Regions from separate parts of the Homo sapiens genome. Here region 2 is linked to region 1. Evidence: fine-mapped expression QTL. Tissue or cell type: sigmoid colon. Region 1 holds a variant in brackets; the other region holds the start of a gene. All regions are shown on one strand. Distances are between the middles of the regions.

Region 1 (8,000 bases):
TCTCAGGCCCTTCCCAAGCCCTTCTGAGTAAGAAACTGCACTTTACAATATGCTCCCAGGTGAACTGTCCGCAGGGAAAGGCTTGAAAAGCCTTGCTACAGGACAGCAAATCCCACAAGCTGTCCTACAGTGAAAGGGAGCAGAACGATAATGTGCATTTGAGAAAGAGTACATCCCATGCCTCAGATTTAGAAAGGTGGCGTGTTCAAGACTGAGATCTCCTCAGAAAGAAACATGCTTAAAAATCCAATGCTACTCAACTGTATTTGATGGCTCAACAACAAATCACCGACTGTAATCACTCAACAGAACCAGCATCCTGTGAAACACACCTTGAGAAACCAGTAGTGGACCTTCTGGCATTCCCGGATTCAACTTTCTTGGCTTCAATGACTGCAGATGGAGTGAGCCCATGGGGTGATAACTGGCAGTTTTGCTGAGGAACAAATCTGAATCATGCCTACTGCCAGGCTGAGGCTCTGGGCCAAGGTCTCAGCTTGGGATAGGGTGAGGATCAGAAGGCTGGAAAGATAGAGGGACTCGGAGACTGCCAGCTACTGGTTAACTTGTGGCATAAGGAGGATATATACAGAAAACACTGGATTCTATAGCTGAAATATGTCATTTGGAGAAATTTAGGAGCCAATATAAGCATTCCTTATTTGTCATTTCATGGGCTATATATATTCCACAGGTGTCAAGAATCTATAATGATGATGATGATGGCAAAGACAATGATAGATACCTTTTTAAAACTTACTATATGCCAAGCACTGTCCTAATTCATATGTTCCCAACAGCAATGCTAAGTGGTATAATCCTCATTTCTGCAGATGAAGAAATTGAGGCACAGAGCTGGCTCCTCGTTTTAATCCGTTTCATGCTAAATGTGACTTCTGAGACCTAGGTGACAGGCATCTGACTGGTGCAGACTAAACTGGCCAGATGATGGAGTGACCACTGGTCCCCTTTATCCCTCGAGCCAGCCCCTGAAGGCTGAGAGACTTGCTCAGAGCCCCGTCCCAGAAGTGGGCAAGATTCATATTTGTGCCTTAGCAAAACTGCCAGTTATCATACTATGGGCTTATTCCTTCTGGAATAGGGTAAAGCAAGAACAGAGAACCCCCTCTGGGGGTGCCACTTAGGTGTGAAGCAGCCCTAATTGGGCAGGTATAGGCTGGAGTGACCTCAGTGGTAGGCCTGGGAGGGGACACCTGGTTTGCTCTGGGGCAGTCGTAGAAGGCTCAGCACAGTGCTGGACTGCAGGTAGGACTAAGCTTGGATTATAAGGCCTGGGATCTTCTCATAATGCTGGTCTGCAGCCACTGTGTGGCCTGTGACAGGCCTTTCCCTGGGTCTCAGTCTTTGAAAATAATGATACACCCCCCACCACACCCGGTCATGGGTTGCACCTTGGGTTTCAACTCAATGACTGCTTTTCAGGAGGTCCCTCTGGGGCTCCTTAGGGTTATGGCTGCTCCAGGCTGGCAAATCCAGATCATGCAAGAGGTGGCTTAACCCTCTCCCTCTCAGGGACACGAAGAAGATCTGTTGCTTCCAGATTGCACCAACACACATGCCTAGAACCCCAGTAATGAAGCTGGAACCTCTGCTGTGTGGTCAGACAAACCCAAGGATAAATTGCCCCTGCTTCTTGGGATGACACTAGGAATTCGCCATTCTTCACGAGGCAGTCCCTGGGGCCTAGAGCCAATTCATTCAGTTTAACATTCCCTCCCTTTGAGACAAAGTATAGGGTGGTGATAATGAAGTCAGTCGGGCACAGCCTTGAGTGCTGGCTGTGTGACACAGGGCAAGTCACTCAACCTCTCTGAGCTCCAGCATGCTCATTGGTAATTGGTATAAATGAAAGTACCTATATCATGGGACTACTGTGAGGTGCCAGCACATTATCAGTGCTTTGTAAAGAGCCGCTATTACTCTTGTTGTTGCTTGGACATTTGTTATGAGGGGGGAATACTTTTTAAAATTTGCTTTTTAAAAACATCAACAAATTTCTGAAGGCATTTTCAAATGAGACTTTAAAATATGTTTTTCTCTTCTTATAAAGTTAAAATTTTTGTATGAGGTTAGGCATAATTTTTTTTTGTTTTAAATTAACAAATAGCAATCAAGGGCTTCTAAGCAATTCCAAGGACCCCCTTGCTGCTCTATTCCACTAGTCTTCCACCCTCTCCCTCCTGGCAGCAGTCGTTGGCATTTTTGTATGTCTCACCCTGGAGGCTGGCAAGCTCTGCACCTCCTGGTCGGGAGCTTCCAGCTCTCCCCTGCAGCTGTCCTGAATTCCTCTTGCTGTAGGTTGTCCCTTTGTCCCAGAGCACTCACCCTAACAGGGAAGTCCCTCATTTCTTCATTAACTTCCAGGTTGCTCCCTCCCCATTAATGCTGAGCTGGAGAAGCAGGGTTCACAGGACCTTACAATAGGGACCAGGAGCAGCAGCTCGGAGATTCAGGCCGCCTTTGGCTTCCTTGACCCTCCTGTACCCAGGGCCAGCATCAGGGAGGGAGGAAGAGGACAGGGACAACAATCAGCAGGGCCCGTGTAAGCATACACTTCTTATGGATGACTCCTCTGACAACCACACGGGGTAAGGCCAGGCTCACGGTCACACAGTGGCTGAGCCAGAAGATCAGTGTTTTTGCTTTTCCATCTAATAATGGCTCCGTCTATACAAAATTTTGGGCAGGAAGGGCAATGCATCTATCAGAACTCATTGGTGACAGGCGCAGCAGGAGCTAAATTGGCTGAGTTGAACCAGGCTGTTACTTCCTAGCTGTGTGACCTTAGGGAAATCACCCAAGCTCTCTGTGCCAACAATTGTGCCTACCTCATAGGATTCATTTAAGGATTAAAGAAGTTGATAAATATCAAGTGATTAAAATCCTACCTGGCACATCCATAGCAGGGATTCTACATGCTAGATATTTTAATTGTTGTTAAGCCTCATGAAGGCAGGAGTCTTTGTCTATGTTGGTTATTGGTCTGTGTTAGAACAGTGCCTGGTACTTAATAGGGGCTCTATAAACAGTTGTTGGGTGAATGAATCTATTTCTTTCAAGATAAAAACTCTTTTGCAATGCAGCCATTGTTTATCTTGGCCAGCAGAGGGCAGCAAATAGCTGTGGACTGATTAATTGTGGACAAGGGTGGTTTTAATTTTGAAGGCTAACAGAACTGTCCCTCCTGAGCCAGTTAGGGAAATAAAAGGTTGCCATGAACCTGTACGACTGGCCCCGACCCCTCCCACTCACCTTTGTGCAGGTTAGAATGATTGTCAGGCATTCAACTCACAAAAAATCTTGGTTCCATTTCTTCTCAACTTACTTTCAATTTCCTTCCTCCCTCCCTCCCTCTATCCCTGCTTTTCCTCCTTTCTCCGTTTTCTCTAATCATATTTCCCCCTGCCCCCACACTCACTCCTCTGCATCAAGCTAGTATACTGTACACACTCCCAAACTTTATCTGTACAATTGCAGCTTGTACTGCAAACCATGACATCTAGAGTGGATCCTTATACAGTATTCTTCCCAACCAATGAATGCTGCTAAACCTAGTATAATTTTTTAAACAACATGTAATTTGATAACTAGACCCAGAGAGGTACTATAGCTTGGCCAAGAACACACAGCAATTAGGGGTAACGTTAGAGCCCTAGCCAAGGCCTTCTGCTGTCCATTATACAGCCTCATCACACATGTTCTCTTTTGCCAACAGGAGGCTCGTGTGGTCCCTGTTTGTCATCCAGTCAATACGGCCATCAGCTTCTGGCCCCAGACACCTTTCCTCTGCACTGTGGCACAGAGGAGCAGACTGCTTTGGAGGGCAGCTTCCTGGGAGCTCCAGGGACCCTGGCCAGGCGGCCACTG[C/A]CACTGACTTCCTCGGCTCACTGAGCCCGTGCCTGCAGCTCTCGTGTTTCCTCTGTGCTGCAGTGGACGCTTATCTTCCCCCGATGGCACATTTCTTTGTCACAGACAGGACCCTCACTGGCAGTCGGAGGTGAGTTCCCGGGGAGCTTCTGGGTCTTGTTGGTGCCTTCTGGCACCACTTGTGGATGGGATGGCTCTGACACCCAAGCCTCACCACTGCTCCGGGGGTAACCCAATGACATGATCTCCCCAGCTTGCTAGATCCTGTCCTTCCCAATTATGATCCAAAAAATCATGCTAGGATAACTGTCTGGAAAAAATATTTAATTGGTCTTCCAGCTGGGAAACAAATTCTATATGAATTGATGAGAAAAAAAAAACAGAATTTTTAAAACTAGAAAAAATGTGGGTGACCTATTATCTTAGGGGATATTTCTTTAAGCATGAAAGCAAAACTAGAAACTATAAAAGAAAAAATGTACAGGTTGACTACATAGAAAAAAGCTCTATATCCTGGTAAACATCCAAATCAAAATAAAAGCTAGTGACAAATGGAGAAAAGTTGAGCTACCCGTGTAACAGACAAAAGATAAATATACTAAATCAGACTCTCAAGAAAATGGATAAAGAATCTGAACTGACAACCTAAAAATATCAAGTCATAGGAACATGAAACATGCTCAGTGTTACTGGTAATGAAGTAAATGCAAAATTCAATTTCTGCATCTTGAAGTTGCAAATTTCAAAACTACGTAGTGTCAGTGAGGATGCGGGCCACAGCCTCTCTCATTCTGCTGTTGGCACAGTTCTGGAGGGCTCTGTATGCTTACAGGTGTCCATGATAAATGCTTTTCTGTGTAGCCTTCATCGCTATCACCTTACTATCTATTGCCTCCTCCCTCCCGCCTTCCTTTACCACACCAATATACTTCACAATGATAGGGATATTGTTTACTGATCTGCCCCAAATGCTTACAATAGCACCTGGCCCGGCTGGTTGTGGTGGCTCACGCCTGTAATCCCAACACTTTGGGAAGCCAAGACGGGCAAATCACAAGGTCAGGAGTTCGAGACCAGCCTGGCCAACATGGTGAAACCCCATCTCTACTAAAAATACAAAAAATTAGCTGGGCGTGGTGGCAGATGCCTGTAATCCCAGGCTACTCAGGAGGCTAAGGCAGGAGAATCACTTTGAACCCAGGAGGTGGAGATTGTAGTGAGCCGAGATCACGCCACTGCATTCCAGCCTGGGTGACGAGCAAGACTCTGTCTCAAAAAAAAAAAAAAAAAAAAAAAAAAAGCACCTGGCCCAATATTAGATGTTCAACATATGCTTATTGAATGAATAATTGATCTTTAACCCAGTAGTTCTTAGGAATTGATACTAAGGCAACAATCAGTGATGTACAAAAAAGATTTATATCCAAGGATGCTCATTTCAACATATATTGTAATAGTCAAACTTTGCAAACCACTGAAATGTCCAGTAAAAATTATGAACCATCCTTTTTAGAGACTATAATAGTAAAGTCATGAAAATCATGTTATAGAAGACAACACAATAACATAGAAAGATTTCCTAGATATATTTTGAAAAGGGCAGGTTATATAACTGTCCAGAAATTTATTTTCTATGTATAATACAATCTTAATGTATATAAATCTACACATATATGCATGGAAAAACTTGTGTAAGAACATACTGACATTTTAACAGTATTTATCTTTGGATAGAGTAATTGTAAAATGTTTACATGTTTTTCTTTACTCTTTCATGTATTTTTGCAGAGTTTCTGTGATAGGACCATTTTGTTTTTGAGACTGGATTAAAAACAATGTAGCAGAGGCCATGGGTGCCTCACCCATATTCCTCAAGCTGGCCCTAGTTCCAAGTAGCTAAGAGCCTGGCGGTGGCCCTCTACCTACAAAGGATGGGAGTGGAGTGGCTCTCTCTCACAGCTTCCTCAGCCCCAGGGGACAACTCTGCAGCATGTTCCTCACAGCTTGACAGAGGCCCTGGCCGTGCACCTTGGTGGCTGTTCTTTGCATTCCCTTCTTCTCAGCCTTGCTTCTCCATGCCACCTCAGTGCTTCCTGGAATCACCTTTCAAGCCAGCTACTTGCACACAAATCCTTGTCCCAGAGTCTGCTTTTAGGAGGAGCCCAGGCTAAAAGGCACAAACGCTGTTTTAAAAATCCTGCCCACTCCGTGTAAAGAACATCAGCCAAGCATGGTGCTATAGAAATAACTCCTATCTTGGCTGTTCCTGTGTGTAGTTCACTTTCAATCTCTCAGCATCCCTGAGTTGAAGAGAGATCTTGCTTAACTGGGAGGGAAGGCCAAGGGGTTTCTGGATACAGGAGCCACCTTGGGGATCTTAGAGCCTCAGAAGAGGCAAGGATGTACGTTATAAGAAGGGGCTGTCCAGATGATAAATGAAATTAATAAACCACCCCTGTGATGCCAGCACATGGCTCACAGCAGATCTGCATCAGGCGCCTACCATTGCCCTAGGATGCCATTAACACCTACTCTTCCTTATGAGGCTTAGAATCAGGGCTGCTGAGGACTTCAGAAATCATCTCATTCAGGTGGGGTGAAGGGGGTGGGTAGCTTCCCTGAGGGTCCCACAGCAAGAGTTAGAGACACAGCCAGGACCAGAACTTACTGAAAAGCAATAATCCAAGGTCTGACTTGGGTTCTGAGGATTTGCTCAGTTATAGATGTCATTCTCGATTTGGCCTGAAGAGGGCAGACACTTGCCATTCATGGAGGTGAAGAGCTTGTTTTTAAGGCTGGACTAACATCTCCCAATAAGGTCATTTGGTTCTAGTGAGAGTTGCAGCTCACAACATTCTTGACTCTTCTGCTGCAAATATGCTACTGGAAAGACACTGAAGTTCACAGACTGAAGTTCCTTTAGTTCCAACTCTGGCACTGTAATAGGTGACCTTGCACAGGTCACTTCACCTCTCTGAGTCTCACTTCTTGTGAAGTAAGATCTCTACTCCGTGACTGAGAAGGTGGTATTGGGGAGTGATATGTAACTTACAAAGTTGCATATTACAACACACATCACTGCTGTTAAGTTCTGTGTGTGTGTGTGTGTGTGTGTGCGCGCGCGCACATGTGCACACTCGTGATGGAGAGAGCTTGATAAAGGAGAGAGGCCTAGGCCAAAGGAGCTTTTTCTGGCCTCAGGTGAATATATATTTGTAAATTCTCTAGCAATTGGAACCAATTCACTTTGTACTTGGAAAAGACTTAACTGCTTTTACTTTATATTTCGAACTGTACTTTTTTAAAAGCTAAAGATGTCCCTTAACCTAACTGGTGTATGGGAAAAAATATACATAACAGGGATATATGTAAAGTTCTACCATTAAGTCAAAAATATTGCTGAATACAGAGAAGGTATTGGTAATACAAATTTTTAAAACTAAGTATTTAGTGGTTGCTTGGTCATGAGAAGCAAAAAAGTAAGAAGTGAGTATTTTTAAAAATCCTGTACCATTTTCCTAGGACATCAAGCCCTAGTACAGGAAGGGACATTTTCACACTAATCTGTGCCAGCTGGAGCAGTCCTGCCATCTGAACATCATATTTTGGAACCCTGAGAAGCTAGGATGCAGTTAACAGGTAAGTAGTAATGGGAGAACTTTCTAGAAACCATGTCTGGAGGAGGGGTTCAGGAGCTGAGATGCTGAGCCTGGGGTAGGGAAGACTTGAGTGGGGCAGGCCCTACAAAAAGGGGTTCCATCAATCCAAATAAGGAAAAGTCACAAAGGAAAGGTCTGGTCTCAATAGTGAAGGGCATTGTTCCCTGAGAGATCAGTGTGTTGTCACAGGAGACAGGAAGCTCTGAACACTTCAAGACATGCTTAGAAGGCCCCCCGATGTCAGCAGAAAAGGGGCTGCTAATGTCATCTCAGAAACCAAGTTATCCCCATGCAACAAAATCAATCACGTATCAAAACATGATGGAGAGACAGCCTGCAGAAGTCAGATGGTTCCCGGAGCACTACAGGATAAAAAGGACCTTGAAATACAGAAGACAAAGTACAGGCTCATGAATGTCTGGACACACCAGCAAATTGAGCCTGACCAACTGC
Region 2 (10,685 bases), 67 kb before region 1:
CTCTACTAAAAATAGAAAAAATTAGCCGGGAGTGGTGGCGGGCGCCTGTAGTCCCAGCTACTCGGAGGCTGAGGCAGGAGAATGGCGTGAACCCGGGAGGCGGAGCTTGTAGTGAGCCGAGACAGCGCCACTGCAGTCCAGCCTGGGCGAAAGAGACTCCGTCTCAAAAAAAAAAAAAAAAAATCATGTTTACGATTCCTTCTCAACAATGTGCTTCTCGTCTAGAAACACATACATTGTTCAATAGATATTTGTTCAATAATATTTTGTGGGGAAAAAAATCACTAGATTAAGAGCCTCCCCTGAACCTCTCCCAATTTAAAAAAAAAAAAAAAAACTCTCAAAAGCAAGGATATGTATACTTTATTCCCTCGCTCAAAAAATTATGTTCAAATATAATCTCTTTAAAAACTCCCTTATGGGGGAGTCTCTCAAATATCATTCCTCCCCTTGTCTTTCATTCTGCTCCCTATTGCCTATATCCAGTATTTCAGAATATAGGAAGAGGCAGAAGGCAGAGGCTTGCTTTTCACCCGCTTCCTCTGAGACAGCAACACTGTGACCATCTTCCTCAAAGATGCCTGGAGTTCTTCGGGATGTCAGTTCAGGAAAGACACAAAACAGCTCTGTATTGCAGAGACCTCCCTAAAACACCCCCCTCCCATATTGGATAATTTCAACATGGCAAGGACATCCATGTGTGAAGTTCTTATTGGAAACTTTTAACAGATATGGTTTAAATTTTAATACAATGGGCAATGTTTTGTTTTCTGGTGAGACAAATTCTTACAGCTGATTGCATGCAGGAAAAGCTTTATTAAGTCAATAAGCTGTTACACTTTTACAAACTGCTATGCAGAATACTCAAACATTTTTAAATGACATGAGAAACTACTAACATCTTTAGTGAGAGTCACTTTCACAATTTTCTCTGCTCCCACACCCCTAATGATCAACATATTCATTTTTTTATTTAGTATATGTCACGCAGCAATTTATCAAAAGCTTTTGTTGTGAAAACACTTTTCTTAAATACACAATTAAAAGATATGATTAAGCACTTACAGGATGTGAAATATTTAAAGGTAATACACAATAATCGGGTTACCAAAAGGACGCCTTCCAATTTTTCTTTCTATTCATTTTGATGTTTTGTTCTTTTCAAAACATTTTCTCTCATTACATTCATTACTAAAGGCCTTACTTTAAATACATCATGCTACATTTTGTTCTCCTCTTCAAATGCCAATGTTTTAACAATTTGAATTCTCTGGCCTGGGAAAAAGAAAAGTTATCCACTTACAAGGTATACGTATTGACAACATGGATGTTACAGTCCAAACAACAGCACAAAATCAACCATGTACATGTAACATAGTGAAATGAGTCCACGTTTTCTACACGCTACAGGATAGGAAGAGCTGGCTCTTAAGGCCCAGGGCTCACATGATTATGCACTTGTCAAGCAGCTTCTCAGTGGTGTTGGGCATCTGGGATTTCTTCTCGGGCTCCTGGAGGCCGGTGGTGGGCTTTTTCTTGTAATTCAGCAGCATGTGGAACAGCTCCTGCACATTCACATCGGTCTTGGCTGAAATCTCCATGAAGGCGCAATTCCACTCCATCGCACAGGTGGCACCATCATTCAGGGCCACCTCCCGGTGGGTGTCATCACTTTTATTGCCCACCAGCACGATGGGGAACTTATGCAGGTTGTTACCTTTGATCTTGCAGATCAGCTCATAGAAGGCCTTCAGCTCTTCCAGGGTTTCCTTCTTGGTGACTGAGTAGACCAGGACGAAGGCGTGGCCCCGGGCTATAACGTGGCGCTGCAGAGCGCGGTTGCCGTCGCCACTCTTGCTGTCGGTGATGTGCAGGGAAAGCACACCGTGGCTGCAGCCCAGCAACTGGCAGTAGGTATTTTCAATGGTCGGCAGGTACTCATGACGGAAGTTGCCGCTCGCCCACTTGTGCAGCAGCGTACTTTTCCCCACACCAGCGGTGCCGACTACCACGACGCGGTAATCTCTGATCTTCCTGTGGGGCTTGAAGGCGCGGAGGATAAGCAGGGCGGGCAGAAGCCGCAACCGCTTCAGCAGCTTCTGTTCCTTGGAGCCAAAGCTGGCGTTACCCATCGTTGGGATTCGGAGGGGAGATACGTGCACAAGTTCTCCCACACTTAGCTGGCAGCAGGAGACCCCTAGGAAGAAAGTGAGACGGTGAGAGATGGTAGTGGTAACCTACAATGTTGTCAGATCATGTCAGCCTGGCCAGCTGCTCCACTAGGACTCTGAAGAGAGTCCACCCTGTGACGTAAAGGGGTGCACACAGCGAGAAGAAAATTCCCAGGCACACAGTTCAGCCTGCTAGACCGAGGGACCAGCAGGTGATATATATTAAACAGACATGGTGGTTTGCTTTTTACCATCTAGAAAGTGCAGCAATACTACCTTTTGTTTTCTTTCCTTAAACTGTTTTATTAAATTCTCACTACACCCCTACAAGAAACACTCTCATTTCCTCGCTTGTAAAATTAAGATTTTAATTGAAGAGGACTGAACAGTCAAAGAGAAACAGGTGAGGGAATTTTCCCCACTCTATGGGGCTGAATGCCAAGGTGACATTTAGAGTGACACCGCCGCCCTGGTTAAAGCTACAGAGTCATCAGTACAGGAGAAAGGAGGGGGTTTTTGGTATCAGTGGTGTGGGATGTAGAGAGGGGAGGTACCTGCAGTCAGTGCAGCCCCAGAAGAGGCATGGGGAGCACCTTTGCTCTGAGCATGCTGTCACCATGTGCCACCAAGAGCTGAGGGAGGGGTCTTAGTTCATGAATCCTTAGTCACAATGACAGTGGAGTAAAAAAAAAAAAAAAAAAAAAAAAAAAAAAATATATATATATATATATATATATATATATATATGAACCTTTCTCTTCAGGATCTAATCTCTGATTAGAAAAGATTGTAAATATTGAATGAGTTTTTCTACAGAACAGTGGTTTTTCTTTTGCCATGGCTACTACCTTTAACAAAGTACTTTTAATTCAGCCTTATGGAAATAGAGAAAATTTCAGGATTTGAACAGTCAATGAACTTTTTGAGTTCAGGAATAAACATAGTAGATTAGGTTTGTAAGAAACTTTTCTCACAGGTATATCCTAAATACCAGACAGCTGCCCAGGGGGACTGCTTCAGAAGCATCCTAGGTCAGATGGAAAAAGTTCTAGGCACCATGCAGACAGACCACATAGCTGGCCTCTGGACAGAGGTAGGAATAGTACAAGGCAATGTCATTCCTGTGGCACTAGGTATAGAAATTTATACATGTTTCTAGGTGATGATGGTCCTTAAAATGCACTTCTCTTCAGGTACAGCTATGATTGTGTCATGTACAATACCAGAAAGAGAAGAGAGGCTTTTTGTGAATAGCACACTCCCTATATAAACTAGCCTGTCTTGCTGGCTGCGTAGTTGAACACATACTCTCCCAGTACTGGGGAAAAGGACCCTTTTTAGAATGTGCAAGTCCCATGAGAGAGTAATATGTCCATATTAGAGTTTTGGTGGTGGTTTTTTTTTTTTTGTTTTTTTTTTTTGAGTCAGGGTCTTGCTCTGTCCCTCAGGTTGGAGTGCAGTCATGCGATCATGACTCACTGCAGCCTCAACCTCCTGGGATCAATCAATCCTCTCACCTCAGCCTCCCGAGTAGCTGGGACTACAGGCATGTGACACCATGCCCAGCTAATTTTCTTATTTTTTGTAGGGACAGGGTTTTGCTATGTTGTCCAGGCTGGTCTTGAACTCCTGTGTTCAAGTGATCCTCCTGCATCAGCCTCCCAAAGTGTTGGGATTACAGGTGTGACACAACATACCCACCCCATATTAGAGTTTTCATTTGAAAAAAAAAAATGTTGTTGCTGGTTGTTATATCTTCAGACTTAACTTGCTTCTAATTCTAGTCTGGCTTCTTTAAGATAGTGTGATTCTAAGAGTGTTCTAAACTTAAGTGGCAAAATTTAAGTAGATGATTTTATATTCTTGATTAAAGGGGGCCAGGGAGGTTAATACAGTAAATATTTGAAATTGATATAAAATAAATACATACATATATCTAAACCATTCATTTTTGCAGCTTTCAGGTAAAATCTAGCACTTTATTCCAGTCTATGAGATGTGGTTAGTTGATATCATCTAATATTAAGTAATGACATCAGCTATCCAAATCCTGGGCACAATTCCTTTAGCAATGATGACCTTTAATAGAATTTAGCTTAAAAAACTAGGAGATTTCTGCTACAGTGATGCAATCTTTCACATCTTATTTATTAACAAAAATCAACAATCCAGCTTTCCTTAGGTCTTCACGCACTAAGAGTTCTCTAGTCACAGAAATCCTAGCCTTGTCTGCACTCTCCACAACTATTATAAACTCCATGTTAGTATCAAGAGTTCCAGTAAAGACCAAATATCTCTTGGCCACCAACATCCCACATTAGGAAATGTGCATTACTAATTATTCTGTTTTACATTACTTCCTGCTCTAGGGGATGTATGTACAAATTCATTCATAGAAAATTGGTAAAGCAGCCGGGCGCATTGGCTCATGCCTGTAATTCCAGCACTTTGGGAAGTCAAGGTGGGAGGATCGCTTAAGCACAGGAGTTCAAGACTAGCCTGGGTAACATAGGGAGACCGCCGTCTCTATCAAAAAGAAAATAAAAGAAAAAAAATTGGTAAAGGACACACGTGATAACTGAAGTTTCCAGATGTGAAGAGAATTCTCATTCTCAGGCAGTGGACCCCCCCCCCCACTCCCCTCCACACTCCTTCCACCTTCCCAGGCCACCTGGCCTCAGGCTGAGGGGGAGGTGAAAGTTTCCAGGAACCAGAGGGCGTCCAAACCCAGCGGCCGTGCGGAGCTCAAGGTCCCGCCGCTGCTGTTGCGGCACCAGCCTGGCTCATGGACATCACCACGCACCTGCAAGGTCAGGTTTCTCTCTGGTGGCTGTGGCGGCTGCTACCCTCCTCGCCCATTTCAATCTTACTTTCACACTACATGACTCCACTATTACTTCCTGAACACTAGCTACCTACGCAGCTGTAATAGTGGACACTGTGTCAACCTTTAAGCTCGCACACTTATCAAACCTCGTTCTTCTATATTAAAAAGTGCTAGCTTCCCAACGGGACTATCCAAAGTGCAGTTGCAGGACCTGCCAGGAGCCCGCAGGGCTGCGGGTGGTTCTTGCGTAATCGCGCCAAGAAAGACCTGGTTCCAGTTTCAGGGACAACTCGCCCATAAACTTCTACTGCGCAACAGCATCTGCTGCTTTGTCTGACACTTGTTGTTTTCAAGTACCCCTAAAAAAGCGAAAGAAAGACTTACCTTTCTCGGAGGCACGAACCAAGCAGCCTAGAAGACAAATGCGCTGCTCGGAGAGACTGCCGCGGCAACCAACTGGACACCCCAAGAGCTCACTCCTCCGCGGTTTTATATTCCGACTTGCGCACAGGAGCGGGGTGCGGGGGCGCAGGGAGTGTGGGTAACAGGCATAGATTCCGCTTGCGCAATACGTGGTAAGAAACCAGCTGTGAGGGGCTGGCCCAACGCAGAGCGGCGCGAGGTCCGCTTGGCATCTACAACAATCGAGGGGCTAGTCCAGAAGTTCAAGGCGGGGTTACAGGTTGGGGAGGAACTGTTAAACTGTGGACTTTTTCTCACCTGTTGGAATAAGCTTCAGGCAAAACTTTGCCAACAAAAACCGGTCCAACTGATTTTAGACGAAAGTCCAAAAGCAGTTTAATGCAGGACAGATAATCTTTTCCACAAATGATACTGAAAAGACAGGACATCTATAGATTCCCCCCCGCCAAAAATAACCCTTACATAAAAATTAAGTGGCTAGATATAACTGTGACGAGTAAAATTACAAAACGGTTTTAAAAAACAACAAACTATTGTCTAAGGCTAGGCAAAAGGTTCTTAAATTGACATTAGTGGCAAGACCGGTAAAAAGAAATGTTGATGAATTAGACTCCATAAATTTAAAACTTTTGCTTTGTGAAAGACCCTGTAACGATACTGAAAAGGTTTACCTAGGAGAAAATATTTACAAGCCATATATCTGGCATACAACCAGTATCTAGAATATGTAAATAACTCAAAAATCAATTATTTTTAAAAATCCAATTAGAAAATAGTCAGAAGACATAAACAGACACTTCACTGAAGATATGCAGATGGCAAATAACCATATGAAAACCTTTAATGTCATTAGCCATTAGAGAAATGGGAATACGAGGCTTTCGTTGTTCTTCGCCTCCCACTAGGGCGGGTTGAGGGTCTGGCTCCAGTAGCCCCGGGTGCCTCTCACTCCTTGGGCGCAATGCTACTATCCTGGCAGAACCCTCGCCGAACCCTCGCAGGACGCCCCATCGGGTCCGCCAGCGGCTAGGAAGCCCGATTGTGTCGTTCCTTTTTCCCTCTGCGCCTCCCACCGCCAGTCCCTTTTCCAAATGCGCCTGCGTCTGCCCTCCACATCTCCGAGCTCCGTCTGGCTTCTTTCTCCCTTGCCTGTGAGCGCCTGGCGGCGGATGCATTGAAAGCTGCGCACCACCGCCTACCGAGCGTTTTGGGGAGTGTGTGGAAGTTGTTGGCAGCAGGTTTTGACAGCAGTACCCTATGGGCCTAGTCGTTGACGGTAGCACCTGGTTTTGTGTGCCCCAGCCAGCTGAGGCCAGGGTGTGTGGTGTGGGCCACTGGTACTGCTCTTCTGCCACTATAATCCCTCCCCCTACCAGGTACCTGGTGCGTAGAAGTCTAAAGACCTGTGAGGTCTAGCCTGGCGCCTGTAATCCTAGAGAATAAGGAGGTTGAGGCCAGGAGTTAGAGACCAGCCTGGGCAACATGGGGAGAACTTGTCTCTACTTTAAAAAAATTTAGCCCAGTGTGGTGGTGGCCGCCTGTAGTCCCAGCTATTTGGGAGGCTGATGTGGGAGGATCACTTGAGCCTCCCACATCAAGGAGATCGAGGCTGCAGTGAGCCGTGATCACAGCCACTGTACTCCAATCTGAGCAACAAAGTGAGAACCTGTCTCAAAACAAATTCCAACCTGATTCTGGTATAGCATCACATGACAGGTAGCAGCCCTAAGGGCGATCAAAGTATTTTACCCCAAAATATATTTCTGACATATTTTGGAATGGTCCTGTGCAAAGCTATCTTTTGCGAGGGAAATTTGTGTTCTGTGGACAATCTCCTTCCCTTTCCAGGTCTTTCTCTGATCCGGGAGAGATTTAACTAAGAGTCTGACACCGTTTAAGGTCATTTACCTTTTGAGGTACATATGCCATCTATTCTTTCTGAAGCATATTACAGGCTTCACATATGTAACAAGAACCCTGGCTTCCACAACCTCCCTCCTGCCACCACTGGCCAAACCCCTCCTCCTCCAAAATGTACCGGCTTTCCAGGTCAAACCAATGTATACCTTACATATATTGACTGATGTTTTTGCCTGTATCTTCTGTCTTCCTAAAATGTATAAAAGAAAACTATAGTCCAAACACCTTGGACACATGTTCTCAGGACCTCCTGATGCTGTGTCACAGGCCGTGGTCACTCATATTTGGCTCAGAATAAACCTCTAAATATTTTACAGAGTTTGGCTTTTTTCACTGGGTTTCCCCACTCATTTTATTGGCATTAGCTCATACTCTTTCTGTCCAATCATATTTCTACATTGCTGTCTATATTTTATTAATCCTAAGTTAAAAATAGACAATTTCCTCTATATGCTTGGGTCATCATTCTGCAGGCTCCCATGTATACATATTAAATACATTTGTATGCTTTTTCTCCAATTAATCTGCCTTTTGCAGGTTGATTTTTCAGTGAGCCTTCACTGAAGTTTCCCTTTGGTCCCTGCACTGGTAATTAACTCAAACTGTTTTACCAAAATTTGATTCATAGCCTTTATCTCATTTTACCAGAAAAATAATTTGGATCCAACTGTTCTCTATAAACCAGCAAGTTTATATGTTTTACTATCTCACAACTAAAATTCTAAAATAAAAGCTAGAAGACCTTTATGTGTATATTTGTTTAAATATATTTACACATATGTACATGTATTATGTTGTATGTTATGTCTACATAATAAAATTCAGTGTGGTAGGCCAAAAATCCCTTAAGAAATGTTAATCTGATTGGTTTAAATAGATGGGCACTCACACAAAAACATAGTAATTAACCTAATTTTTTTAGTTCATGTAACTTAATCTTTAAAAAAGTAATTGGTTTTAAAATTGTTGATAAAATAAAATTAAAAACGTCTTTCTAATTGTCAATATATATTTTTGCCTGTGTTTACTGGTGTGGGGGCTATGGCTCTCAGCCCCCCAAAGATTTGCTGGAAAATCACTGACATGGGCCACATTGATTAGTAAGAGAAAAGACATACAAATGTATTTAATGTGTATACACAGGAGCTTTCAGAATAAAGACCCAACTTCTCAATGAGTTATAGAAGTTTATACACTAGTCTTGAAATTACAGAAAGAATGGGGGGCTTGGATTCTGGTAAAACAGATTATGGGAGGAGAAGAGGAATTTATTGAGGGGCAATGAATGATTGGTGAGAGAATGATTGGATTGAGCAACAGATATTAACTTGTAAATAGTTTTCTTTGGAATTTAAATAATCCTTGGAGGCAGTCATTGTACTTCTATAAAGGTCTGCTTGGGTGTGGTTACATTTTGGTCTTCTTTTCTTTAACAGATGAGATAACAGGAGGAGGAGAACCAACAATTGCTCTCCTTGGTGGGTCTGGTTGTTAGGCAGATAAAGGAACTTCAGCTTCTTTGGGAAGGATGGTGGGGTTGGAGGAAAAGTCAGAGAGACCTTGAGGCTTCTTTAGTTTAGCGTGTCAAATACCATGTTTTGGCATATCAGTTTCTGAGCACCAGCACTGGTCAGTTTTATATTTGCCTGTGCTATTAAGGTCATGAAGCTATAAACCAGGCCTAAAGCAAAGTGATATATATTTATGCAATTCTTTGATAAATAAGATTAATTTAATATTATTTAACAAAAACAGCTGTGGCTGGGTAGTGACTCCCACCTGCAATGCTAAAACTTGGAGAGGCCAAGGTGGGAGGATCACTTGAGCCCAGGAGTTTGAGATCAGCCTGGGTAACATAACAAGACCCAATCTCCATAAAAAAATTTAAAAATTAGCCAGGCATGTGCCTGTGATCCCAGCTACTCTTAAGGCTGAGGAGGGGGGATCCCTTGAGCCCAGAGTTCAAGGCTAGAGTGAGCTATGATCACACCACTGCACTCTAGCCTGGGCAACAGAGTGAGCCTTTGCCTGTAAGGAAAAAAACAAAAGTTGTATTTTCTGAGTTATCTACAGATACCCATGTATTTAACTTTATGGCTCTTATGTGGGTAAACACCTCATGTTAACAGGCTATATAATTATTTAATTTAAAAAAACTTGAAATAATGACCAGCTCCATCTAATATCTCAATTTTTGTAAGAAATATAGGTATAATTGTTAAAAAATAAATTAACTGTAAATGAAATAAATGTTTATAAATGAACTCATGTAATTTAAAGTCTTAAAATTTTATGTTAAATCATATATACAAAATAAATGTCTGTATCATAGTCAGATAAGATAAAATGATTGGTTATCCCACATTTTTAAAAAAAGAAAAATTATAGGACTAAGAGGTAGGGGTTAGGAAAATAAAAGGTCTAAAGTTGAAGAGGACTAATAAAGGATGAGCTAATAAAAGAAGTTTTATGTGTTATTGACTTGGCTGGAATTAAAAACAAATTGTTTGTGTGTTTTTCTAAAAATTAAACGTTCTCAGGTAGGGGACCAGGGGACAGGCACTGATACAGAACCAGAGTCTGGTTCCTTATATTTAAAACAACAAGATTTCTTGAAGTATTATCTGATTTTAATAAAATTTTAAGGGGTTTTGATTTTTAAATTTATACTCTGTTTTTAAACAGGTATCTTCTCCTTGACATCTATTTAATTTTCCTAGTTTTGGGTTAAAAATGTTGTCTTCTTGATTTAAAGTGGTAATTTCATTCCTTGAGGTACAGTTGTTTTTTTTTTTTTATTTCTCAAATTCATATTGCAGAAGTTCATCTTTTACAGTTTCTTGCTGTACATGATTTGCAGGTCAATATGTCATTTCCTTCATTTTTTTCTCCCCTGGAGAAGGCCTGAGATGATCATTCTCCTCTTTGGCTTTTTTTGGTTCTAACATTGCTGTTTTGGCCTGACATTAGAATATTTATCTTGAAGGCGTAGAAAAGCAGCGTTTTTCTCCAGTATAACTTAATTTTGTGCTCTTGGCTTTTCTTGATATGTCTGAATTTTTCCATATAACCAGAAAAGTTACTGTGGTAAGTAACAGCATGCTGTTACTAAGAACCATGTAGTTCCCTGCTCAAGGTACTAGTTTTCTTGTTTATATTCCTCTATAATATAGTGTATACTTATAACCTTGGACATATTCTTCCTGTGTTTCATGACATTCAAGTTCCCTTTTCATCAGGTTCAACTTCCACGTTATCTGAATGAGCTTCCCATAATGAAAAACAATCACACCGAAGAGGGCTTTCTTTACGTTTTTGGTAGCGAGTCTAAGAAACAAAGATTT

Direction of the effects. Alleles are on the strand shown, and positions count from the first base shown. SD is a standard deviation of normalised expression in the study named.
In carriers of allele C in region 1, the expression in sigmoid colon of the gene that starts at base 5,462 in region 2 tends to be lower than with A alone (moderate effect, 0.56 SD a copy in GTEx).

Evidence for each region.
Region 2: it holds the start of DIRAS3, and the variant in region 1 is fine-mapped to the expression of DIRAS3 in sigmoid colon (GTEx, PIP 0.91).

The regions. Positions count from the first base shown.
Region 1 is chr1:68,113,715-68,121,714 of GRCh38, forward strand. GNG12-AS1 (GNG12, DIRAS3 and WLS antisense RNA 1) reads left to right here. Exons shown (of 10, transcript NR_040077.1): 7 at 3,737-4,018; 8 at 7,411-7,527. It also overlaps a transcript of WLS not described here. Among named protein-coding and RNA genes, the nearest start is that of MIR1262, 66 kb to the right of the region's middle. RefSeq lists a silencer at 2,952-3,246. The variant C/A (reference allele first, on the strand shown) is at 3,889.
Region 2 is chr1:68,045,166-68,055,850 of GRCh38, forward strand. DIRAS3 (DIRAS family GTPase 3) reads right to left here and starts at 5,462. Exons shown (of 2, transcript NM_004675.5): 1 at 5,383-5,462; 2 at 797-2,197. The coding sequence starts at 2,132. The coding sequence ends at 1,443. All of the region lies in intron 2 of GNG12-AS1 (GNG12, DIRAS3 and WLS antisense RNA 1), which reads left to right. It also overlaps the pseudogene ARL5AP3.